Linked DNA regions of Homo sapiens. The protein of the gene in region 2 interacts with the protein of the main gene of each other region in a pairwise test. Each region holds a gene or a part of one and is shown on either strand. Other genes may lie near its edges. The genes, in order: SLC38A3, COL6A2 and COX6A2.

Region 1 (3,727 bases), on a different chromosome or scaffold from region 2:
AGCACCTGGTTGGTAGGGGCATAACCTGCTCTGTGGGGACCTGGAGGTGCAGCAGCCTTTTTGTGGGGTCCTCCAGGGTTCTGCCTGGCCATCTTGGCAGTGCCCATTGGGCCTACTGCCCCCTCAGCTGGGCCCCCTGGCTCCCTCTCCCCTTCTCGCTCTTTCTGGGGCTCTCTTTTTCTTCAGCTTTCTCTCTTTTTTTTTTTTTTTTTTTGAGATAGGGTCTCGCTGTGTTACCCAGGCTGGAGTGCAGCGGCGTGATCTTGGTTCACTGTAGCCTCTGCCTCCCAGGTTCAAGCAGTTCTCCTGCCTCAGCCTCCCGAGTAGCTGGGATTACAGGCACCTGCCACCATGCCTGGATAATTTTTGTATTTTTAGTAGAGATGGGGTTTCACCATGTTGGCCAGGCTGGTCTCAAACTCCTGGGCTCAGGTGATCTGCCCGCCTCGGCCTCCCAAAGTGCTGGGATTACAGGCGTGAGCCACCATGCCCGGCCTTACAGCTGTCTCTTGCTGTCTTGTTGTCTGTCTCTTCCTCCATTTGGCTGTCTCTGACTGGGTGCTCACTCTGTTTCTCACCTCCCTGGTTGTTTCTGTCGCTGTCTGTCTCCTGTCTAAATGTCTGTCCGCTATCTGCATGTGGTTTTTGTCTGTGTGTTTTTCTGTCTGTGTCCCTCTGTGTGCATCTGCATTTCCCTGTCACCCTGGGCCGCTGCATCTCTGTCTGTCTGTCTCTGTGTGTGGATCAGTATGCATGGACGCATGGAGCTAATGACTGTGTTTTCTCTCCCTGCTCTGTCCCTGTCTATCTCTCTTCCCTCCCTCTGCCTTTTCTTCCTGATGTTGGATGTCTCCCCTCCTCCAGGCCGACCTTGACTTTAGCCCCCCATCGGACTCTCTGATGAGTCCTGAACTGCCCGAGGCCTGTGCTTCAGCTTGCTTTGGGGCCAGAAGTCCGGCTGTCTAAATATTTGGCCGCCTCCAGGGGATTCCGGGTCAGCAGGGAGGAGAATGGGCTGGCTGGCGCAGGGTCTCCCCTGCCCCTGGGGGGCCACAGTCACGTGATGTCCTGTCCTTTGCCTCAGCTGGGCCTCCGGCTGCACGTCCTTCTCAGCAGGCTGGCAATGGGTGAGGTGGGGGCTGCTGTTGCTCTAGCCCACTCGTGAACCAAGAGCTTCTGACTGCAACCTCTATGGGTGGCAGCCTGAGCAAGGAGGGTCCAGGGCTGGGTGGGAAGGGAGGCTGAGGTGCCTAAGGTTAGGCCCAGCTACAAGCATCTGTTAGAAAACGTACCTGGCCATGGCCGGGCGCAGTGGCTCAAGCCTGTAATCCCAGCACTTTGGGAGGCCAAGGTGGGTGGATCACGAGGTCAGGAGATCGAGACCATCCTGGCTAACATGGTGAAACCCCGTCTCTACTAAAAAATACAAAAAATTAGCTGGGCGTGGTGGCGGGCGCCTGTAGTCCCAGCTACTCGGGAAGCTGAGGCAGGAGAAAGGTGTGAACCCAGGAGGCGGAGGTTGCAGTGAGCCGAGATCACGCCACTGCACTCCAGCCTGGGTGACAGAGCAAGACTCCGTCTCAAAAAAAAAAAACAAGAAAAAAAAAGAAAATGTACCCGGCCACAGGAAAGTCTACCTTCCGGCCCCAGCTGGGTCTCTCAGATCCTCCTAGACACCTCCGGATGCCCAGAACACAGAGCCACAGACCCTAGATCCCAAGGCCAGGGAGCTGGGGGCTGAGGATTAACATGGCCGGTAGTTCAGTTCTCTGGGCCATCTGCCTTCCCCTGGATATGCCCCCGCCTGCATGTCACTTCTTCAGTATTAGCCCAGTGTTGGCCACACACTGGCCACTTGCACTGTTGTGTTGTTGATGAGGAGGACATGAAAACATGGGTCTAGAGGAGGGTAAGAGGTGTCTTTTCCCTGTTCTAACACCCTCCTCCCACCTGCTTTGTCCCTAGACCCCTGACCCCAGCAATCAGCTACCACCAATTCCTATGGCTGTGCCTTGAGAACATGCAGTCCAAATGTCTCCATTGGATCTGGTTTCCCCCCTTACTAACACCTTCTCCTAGTAGGGGGCATCTTCCCTCTGAAGCCTGGAGGAGCAGGTGGACAGAGGGGTAGCTGTCCAGATGGGTACCAGACTTAGGAGGGGGGCACCCTGTCTCAGCCAAGGAGGGGAGTGGTAAAAATGAGCTGAGCTGGAACTGGGGGCAGCCCTCACCCCTGAGCCCCCAGGGATAATCACGATGGACCCTCAAGCCAGGCCAGCTGTCTCTCTCCTGAGATCTTGGCGGAGGTCAGGTAGCCTGGGCCTCAGCAATAAGCTCCAGAGGGTCTGTGCCTCCACTGGTGCAAGTCGTCACCAAGGTAAAAAGAGTGCGAAGGCCTCCCTGTCACCAGCTCACTACTGCCGACCCAGACCCACTTATGTTCCTGAGCATGGGGAAGGAAAGCAAGGCTCAGAGTCCTGGGGACTCCAAGGACCTTGATCCCTGGGCAGAGAGCTGTGCTTCCTGTAGCTGCTTGCATCAGCCGCCCTGAAGTGGCCTGGGTTCCTGGGGCTCAAAATCTTTAATTAGCCAAACTCAACACCTGCCGAGGTGTGCCTGATGAATTCTCACCAGGTGATGTTCGCGTGGGCGGGCGTTACCTGCTGCGCCATCCCTGTGGCTCCTGGCCCCTCCTGGCCCTTATCTCCCAGGAAAACAAACAGGTCCCAGGGCAATGGCCTGGGCCATTGATTTACTGCCCGGGTTCACACTACATCCATGACAGATGCCATTCTGATGACCTGCCCAAGGCCACCGTGATCTCCCCACCCTAGCTCCTGGCCACTCTCTGGGCACCCATGGACTGTTCTGGGGATGAAGGCTTTGGGGAGGCTCCTCACTCATCCCCAGCTTTGACCAAGCCTCACGGGACCCCTAGAGGACAGGGATACACTGAGGTCCTGAGCTGGGGAGTACCCTGCCCCTGGCCACACAGTGAGGCAGGGCCAAGCCCAGCCCTAGAGGGTCTACTCTGGGCTTTCACCACAGGGGATCAGGCTCTGCTGGCAGCCTTTCTTATGCAGGAGCCCTTCCCTGAGTTTACCCCGATTCCGATTCCCGGATACAAAGGAGCCTGGGAGGCCACAGGCCTGAGGGGTAGGAGCTGTCAAAAATGGGCTGGCAGCCTCAGGGAATGGCTGGGGGCTCCATGCCAGGCCAGTGCTAATCCTCACCCTGGCCCCCAGCCCCCAGCCCTCCTCCCTGCCCTGGACCAAAGTCCAGACTCCTAGACCTGGCCTTTACAGCTGTATCAGGTTTGTCTGTTGCCACAGAACCTTCCTTCAACGCTTACAGCTTGCCTCGTACTGCACCTCAGGGCCTCTGCCTATGCTGTGCTCTCTGCCTGGTACACTCTTTCCTGTTTGACACCCCAGGGTGCCTACTGGAATTTTAGTACTGGCTTCGCACCTCCTCCAGGAAGTCTTCCTTGATGCCCCCATCCTTTTTTTTTTTTTTTTTTTTTTTTTTTCTTTTTTTTTGAGATGGAGTTTGGCTCTTGTTGCCCAGGCTGGAGTGCAATGGCGCAATCTCAGCTCACTGCAACCTCCACCTCCTGGGTTCAAGCAATTCTCCTGCCTCAGCCTCCTGCGTAGCTGGGATTACAGGCATGCGCCACCAGCCCGGCTAATTTTGTATTTTTAGTAGAGATGGGGTTTTTCCATGTTGG
Region 2 (3,500 bases):
ACCCCGGCAGGCCTGGATTCAGCTACCCAGGACCCCGAGGAGCACCCGTGAGTCACAGCCTGGGATGGCAGCTCCCAGGAGTGGGTGGACATTGTCCCAAGGGCCCTGAAGATTCCTAGTAGTTCCCTCAAGGCCTCCTCTGTGCAGAAGAAAGTGTGAGGTCCCTCCTGCGGGACAGAGTGGTGAGAAGGCTTCGGGTGACTCAGTGAAGGATAGGTCCAGCCCAGCATCAGGAAAAGAGCACAGCTCAGAACGCAGCACAGTGGCCTCACCCAGAGTGTGAATGAGCGAGGGAGGGAAACGGGGCTGCAGAAAGCTGCCCAGAGGGAGGAAGGAGCACTGGGATCTGAGGCTGAGTCACCCTGGCTTCTGTTTGCTTCACAGGGAGAAAAAGGCGAGCCCGGCCCACGCGGCCCCGAGGTATGTGTGGGTCCTGGCCACCTGTGCCCACCCAGGGTGGGGGTCTGCACGCCCAATTGCTGGGAACACAATGCCCACCGTCACTGACAGGACCACCCCTGTCTTGAGATGGTCCTGGCTCCCCAAGGCCCAGCCATGTCACCTATGCTGAGCTCTGGGGGAGCTGTCAGCCACTGGCTGGTCCCTTTTCAACCAAAGTTCAGGCTTTGCAAAAAAACCACATAGATGCTCCCGTTTAAAGGACCCCAAAATGCCAGATCGATTTTTCCACATAAAAATCTCACTGGTGTCCCTGGTAGAGACAGCTCCTCTGTCCCAGGCTAACATGTGTTCCCTGTCACAGGGAGGCCGAGGCGACTTTGGCTTGAAAGGAGAACCTGGGAGGAAAGGAGAGAAAGGAGAGCCTGTGAGTGTCACCGTCCCGAAGCCCACAGCAGCTGGGCAGAGGCAGGGAGGGGCCCTGAGGCTGAGCGTGTGCATCTATGAGTACAGGAGAACGCCAGGCAGCTTGGCCCCAGCCATGAGCACCACCCCCACCTTCCTAAAGGGAACGGCTGGCTCAGGGGCCCCCTCCCTCAACCCAGCCTCCCTTCCAGCGTCCCCTCCCCAGTGACCCCCCAACATCCCCCCCACAGCATCCCCCACAAGGGTCCCCTCCCTAGTGACCCCTCCACAACATCCCCCCAGAGTCCCCTCCCAGCATCCCCACTACAGCATCCCCCACCAGGGTCCCCTCCCCAGCGACCCCAACATAGCATCCCCTCCAGAGTCCCCTCCCCCAAAAGATGCCTCCACATAGCATCCCCCTCAGAGTTCCTACACACAGCATTCCCCAAGGGTTCCCTCCCCAATGTCCTCCCCACAGTTATCCCCCAGAAGGTGCTCTGTGCCTCCAAATCCCTAGCCTGGCCAAGGGTTTAACCAGGGCTGCAGGTTGGTCTGGAACTGAGCACAAAACAAGGGATGGATAACGATGGATGGATGGGCAAGTGGATGGGGGTGGGCAAATGGATGGATGGGAGGATGGGTGATGGATGGATGAGTGAATAGAAGAGTGGGTGGATAGAAGATGGATGAATGGATGGATTGCTGGATGAGTGGGTGGGTGGATGGATAAGTGGATACATGGGTGAATGAGTAGATGTATGGGTGAGTAGGTGGGTAGGTGGGTAGATGGATGGGTGGGTGGGCGAGTGTGTGGTTAGATGATGGATGGCTGAATGGATGAGTGGGGGGATGGATGGGTGAGTGGGTGTATGTATGGATGGGTTAGTGGGTGGGTGGATGAATGGATGGGTGCATAAAGGATGGATGGATGAATGAGTTAGTGGGTTGGCAGATGGATGGATGGGTGAGTCAGTGGATAGATGGATGGGTGGGTGGATAGAGGATGGATGGTTGGGTAGGTGATGGGTGGATGAGTGGATAGATGGGTATGTGAGTGAGTGGGGGGATGGGTAGGTGGGTGGATGGATGGTTAGGTGAATGAGTGGATGGACAGACGGACAGTGGGTGGATGGATGAGTGAACGGATGGACCGATGGATGAATGGGTGGGTGGGTAGAGGATGGACGGACAGGTGAGTGGGTGGGTGGATGGATAGATGGGTAAGTGAGTGGATAGATAGATGGGTGGGTGGACAGAGGATGGGTGGATGAATGGATGGGTTAGTGGGTGGCTGGGTGGATGGATGATGGATGGGTGACTGGGTGGATGGATGGATGGGTTAGTGGGTGGCTGGGTGGATAGATGGATGGGTGATTGGGCGAATGGGCGAATGGGTGGATGGGTGGGCGTGGAGTTGGTGGGTACATGATAATGGGGTGGAATACCCATGGATTGGAATGAGCTGTTTTGGCTGCTATTTCTGGGACACCCAGCTCTGCCAGGCCCCTACCCCTCTGGTGGGCCAGGCTCTGACGGTGGCCACTCATGGCCTTTCTAGCTCTGGTGCCAGCATAGGGAAGGAGGAGGCACAGCCTTGTCTTACTCCTTGCACCTGTTAGCCCCCCCCCCCGCCAAGGGAGGACCCGTGGTTGGGGACAGCACAGGGGGCCCTGCTGTGTGCAGGGACTGTCCCTGGGGCCACTGAAGCCCACCTGTTCTTGTTCCTTCTCAGGCGGATCCTGGTCCCCCTGGTGAGCCAGGCCCTCGGGGGCCAAGAGGAGTCCCAGGACCCGAGGTAGGTTGGTGGCCAGTCCCCATGCCCTCCCCCCAACCTGCCAGGCCAACACACACCCAAGCCTCGTGGTTCTGCCCACGGTGGACCCACGTATCAGTGGGCAGTGGCCTGGGAGAGACTCAGCCACCCAGCCTTGGCCCCAGAGTCTCAGCCTCATCCTTCCTTCCCCAGGGTGAGCCCGGCCCCCCTGGAGACCCCGGTCTCACGGTAGGTGTCACATGGGGCAGAACCAGTGTCCTTCTCCTGCCAAAACTAGACACCAAGAGCAGCAGGGGTGGGGGAAGGTCAGCTGGCACGGTCAGAGAGCAAGATCAGTGGAGGAGGTCAGAGGGCAAGGTCAGAGAGCAAGCTTGGTTGGGGAAGGTCACAGGGCAAGGTTGGTGGGGGGAGGAGGGTGGCAGCGAGGTTGGTAGGGACAGGACCCGCCAGCCTCCCCGCATGGCTGCCTCCACACGTGGGCTGGAATGTCCCGGGACCCCCAGGCCAGGACCTTGCTGTGGAAACTCTTCTGGGGCCCCGGGGGGACTACCCTGCCTGCCGTGTGCATTGCAGGAGTGTGACGTCATGACCTACGTGAGGGAGACCTGCGGGTGCTGCGGTGAGGCACTGCCCACGGCAGGGTCGGGGCCCATGCACCGGGTGGAGGGCGGGAGTGCAGCAGGGCTGGGTCATCGCTGGGTCCTGCATGTGCACGTGACCCTAGGGTCTGAGGTCTCCCCGGTACCCCCCGATGACCCTGCCACCCCCCCAGACTGTGAGAAGCGCTGTGGCGCCCTGGACGTGGTCTTCGTCATCGACAGCTCCGAGAGCATTGGGTACACCAACTTCACACTGGAGAAGAACTTCGTCATCAACGTGGTCAACAGGCTGGGTGCCATCGCTAAGGACCCCAAGTCCG
Region 3 (2,639 bases), on a different chromosome or scaffold from region 2:
GCTAGAAGCTTCCTATTGGATTGTAATTCTGAAAAGGCATTGTTGTAGGGTTAACCAAAGTAACAAGGTTCAAGCATTCATTACATACATATTTTTAGAACACCTCCTTCATGCCAAGGTCCCTGCCCGTTGCTGAGGACAGAACAGGCAGATGTCATCCCTGCCTGGTCTTGTGGCTTTCTTGTGACCTGCTTTGATAGAGGGTTCACACCAGCCCTGTCTAGGCTTGCTTTCTCCAAGTAGTCATATTTTTCAGATTGAAATAATGCACTTTGCAGTAGACACCTGTCAGGCTTGTGGCTGCCTGGAACCTTTTGAATACTCATCCTAGACCTGGAGATTTTCCCTACAATTCCTGCCTCCCTAAGGCAGAATCCAGAGCTCAGTTTCCCATCCCCTCCTGCAGCTGGGGGACCTAGGGGTTGCCAGTTGGTGCAATCACATAATTCTTTCAGAAAAGAGCGACCCAGGATACAGGTTTCATGAAGAATCTGTTTTCAAGAGGGGATGAGGGTGGAAAATTCTGGTTTTCCAGGGCAGCCTTAATGAAGCTTTTGGCATCCAGGGTCCAGCAGTGTGAGCTGTGGGGGTGTCACTGCAGCTGGCCAACGGAATGACTTGTTTATGACTGTGCAGACTGTAGGCATCTCTGGCTATATCAGACATAGTAAGCTACCTAAGATTCTCAATTACTTATCTTCTAAAACTAGTAAGAGTGAGTTCTGTTCTTTGCAAAGAACTGTGACTAATACATATACTGAACTACTGTTACCTGCCAAAATCCAGGTTGACACATTCCTACCTTACATAAACTTCATAAAAATGATGTAAGGGCCGTGTAGTGGCTCATGCCTGTAATCCCAGCACTGTGGGAGGCTGAGGCGGGAGGATCACGTGAGCTCAAGAGTTCCACACCAGCCTGGACAATATAGTGAGATCCCCGTCTCCAGTATTTAAAAAATCTTTTAAGGTACGAATTATTATACATTTTACAGCTGAAAACACTGAGACTCAAAAAGACACTTAATTCATTCTACAAATATTTATTAAAGCCCAACTGTGTGCCAGCCACCAGGCATAGAATAGGGAACAAAATAGTTTCCCTGCAACTATATAAAAAGAATGGCATATTGTACTTAAATGCCTCCTTGCCAAAATAAGAGGCACAGGACAACAGCTGTCTGGAGATGACCTCAAGCCAGTCAGGCCCCATTTTAAATATAGAAACCCCTAAGAATAGCCGCCAGTGCTCCAGACTCAACAGGTGATTGGCCCAGAGAGGGGAGGTGACCCCAGGCCCCAGGAAAGGGAGCGAGGACAGCGCTGGTTCCCGGCTCCCCGCACCATCATGGCTTTGCCTCTGAGGCCCCTGACCCGGGGCTTGGCCAGCGCTGCCAAAGGAGGCCACGGAGGAGCAGGAGGTGAGTGGGGAACGGGCGGATCCGGGGGCTCCCCTACCCTGCCCACCTGTTCACAGGCCCGCCGCCCCAGGACCGCCGCGCTCACCCCGCTCCGTCCGCAGCTCGTACCTGGCGTCTGCTGACCTTCGTGCTGGCGCTGCCCAGCGTGGCCCTCTGCACCTTCAACTCCTATCTCCACTCGGGCCACCGCCCGCGCCCCGAGTTCCGTCCCTACCAACACCTCCGCATCCGCACCAAGGTACGCGGGACGGGCGCGCGGGCGGCACGGGGGTGCTGCGGGGGCGGGGGGGGGTGCTGCGGGGGCGGGGGGGGGTGCTGCGGGGGGGGGGTCGCGCGGGGCGCGGACTCCGGACTCACGGCGCTCACGCGCGCTCCCTCCCCCGCTCTCTCCACAGCCCTACCCCTGGGGGGACGGCAACCACACTCTGTTCCACAATAGCCACGTGAACCCTCTGCCCACGGGCTACGAACACCCCTGAGGCCCCGGACGCCCCCGGACACAATAAAGGTGTGAAGCTTCGAGTCTGCGGCTCTGTGGGGAGGGCGGGGCCACGGGGAGCGCGCCCAGAGGCGCCCGCTCCGCGCATGCGCCCAGCTTGGTAAGCGCTCCTGCTCCGCGCATGCGCCTAGCGCGGTGGGCGCTCCACGTGCTTTTCCCACGCCGCTGATACGGAGGTGCTCGAGGGAGCCTCCTCCACTCACAGGTAGGCGATCCCAGCTCCCTGTCTCTCACCTGGTAATAATGAGGCCTCCCTCTCACACACACCTATTAATAATTAGGGCTCTAGGCTGTAATGGGCTTCCGCGTACACCGAATCCTCACAGTAACGCTGGGAGCAGGGTATAAATTTAGTTCACCTTCTCCCGAGGAAGACCTGAGATTCTTGGGAATTAAATGACTTGTCCAAGTTCCGGCAGCTCGGCAGAGCCCCCATGGGAGCCCAGGGCTGCAGATCCTGAAGTCCCACTTCTTGCCTGACACCTGAGCTGCTGGTGTCTGTGAATCCCAGCTCTCTGGATTTCAGACGGAGGCTCCACAGTCCTGTGTGTGAGGCCTTGGGACCTAATGCTGGATTTGGAATCTTTTGATAATTCTCTATAATCTTTCTTTCTTTTTTTTTTTTTTTTTTTGAGACGGAGTCTCGCTCTGTCGCCCAGGCCGGACTGCGGACTGCAGTGGTGCAATCTCGGCTCACTGCAAGCTCCGCTTCCCGGGTT

What was found.
Region 1: the proteins of COL6A2 (region 2) and SLC38A3 interact in a two-hybrid assay, tested with the Homo sapiens proteins (one large-scale study listed by BioGRID and IntAct).
Region 3: the proteins of COL6A2 (region 2) and COX6A2 interact in a two-hybrid assay, tested with the Homo sapiens proteins (one large-scale study listed by BioGRID and IntAct).

The regions. Positions count from the first base shown.
Region 1 is NC_000003.12:50,208,067-50,211,793, forward strand, and holds part of SLC38A3 (sodium-coupled neutral amino acid transporter 3), read left to right. Parts: intron 1-3,727. UniProt on the Homo sapiens protein: Symporter that cotransports specific neutral amino acids and sodium ions, coupled to an H(+) antiporter activity.
Region 2 is NC_000021.9:46,122,112-46,125,611, forward strand, and holds part of COL6A2 (collagen alpha-2(VI) chain isoform 2C2 precursor), read left to right. Parts: coding exon 1-47; intron 48-384; coding exon 385-420; intron 421-763; coding exon 764-826; intron 827-2,539; coding exon 2,540-2,602; intron 2,603-2,773; coding exon 2,774-2,809; intron 2,810-3,154; coding exon 3,155-3,200; intron 3,201-3,353; coding exon 3,354-3,500. UniProt on the Homo sapiens protein: Collagen VI acts as a cell-binding protein.
Region 3 is NC_000016.10:31,427,035-31,429,673, reverse strand, and holds COX6A2 (cytochrome c oxidase subunit 6A2, mitochondrial precursor), read left to right. Parts: upstream 1-1,313; 5' UTR 1,314-1,348; coding exon 1,349-1,421; intron 1,422-1,522; coding exon 1,523-1,659; intron 1,660-1,816; coding exon 1,817-1,900; 3' UTR 1,901-1,943; downstream 1,944-2,639. UniProt on the Homo sapiens protein: Component of the cytochrome c oxidase, the last enzyme in the mitochondrial electron transport chain which drives oxidative phosphorylation.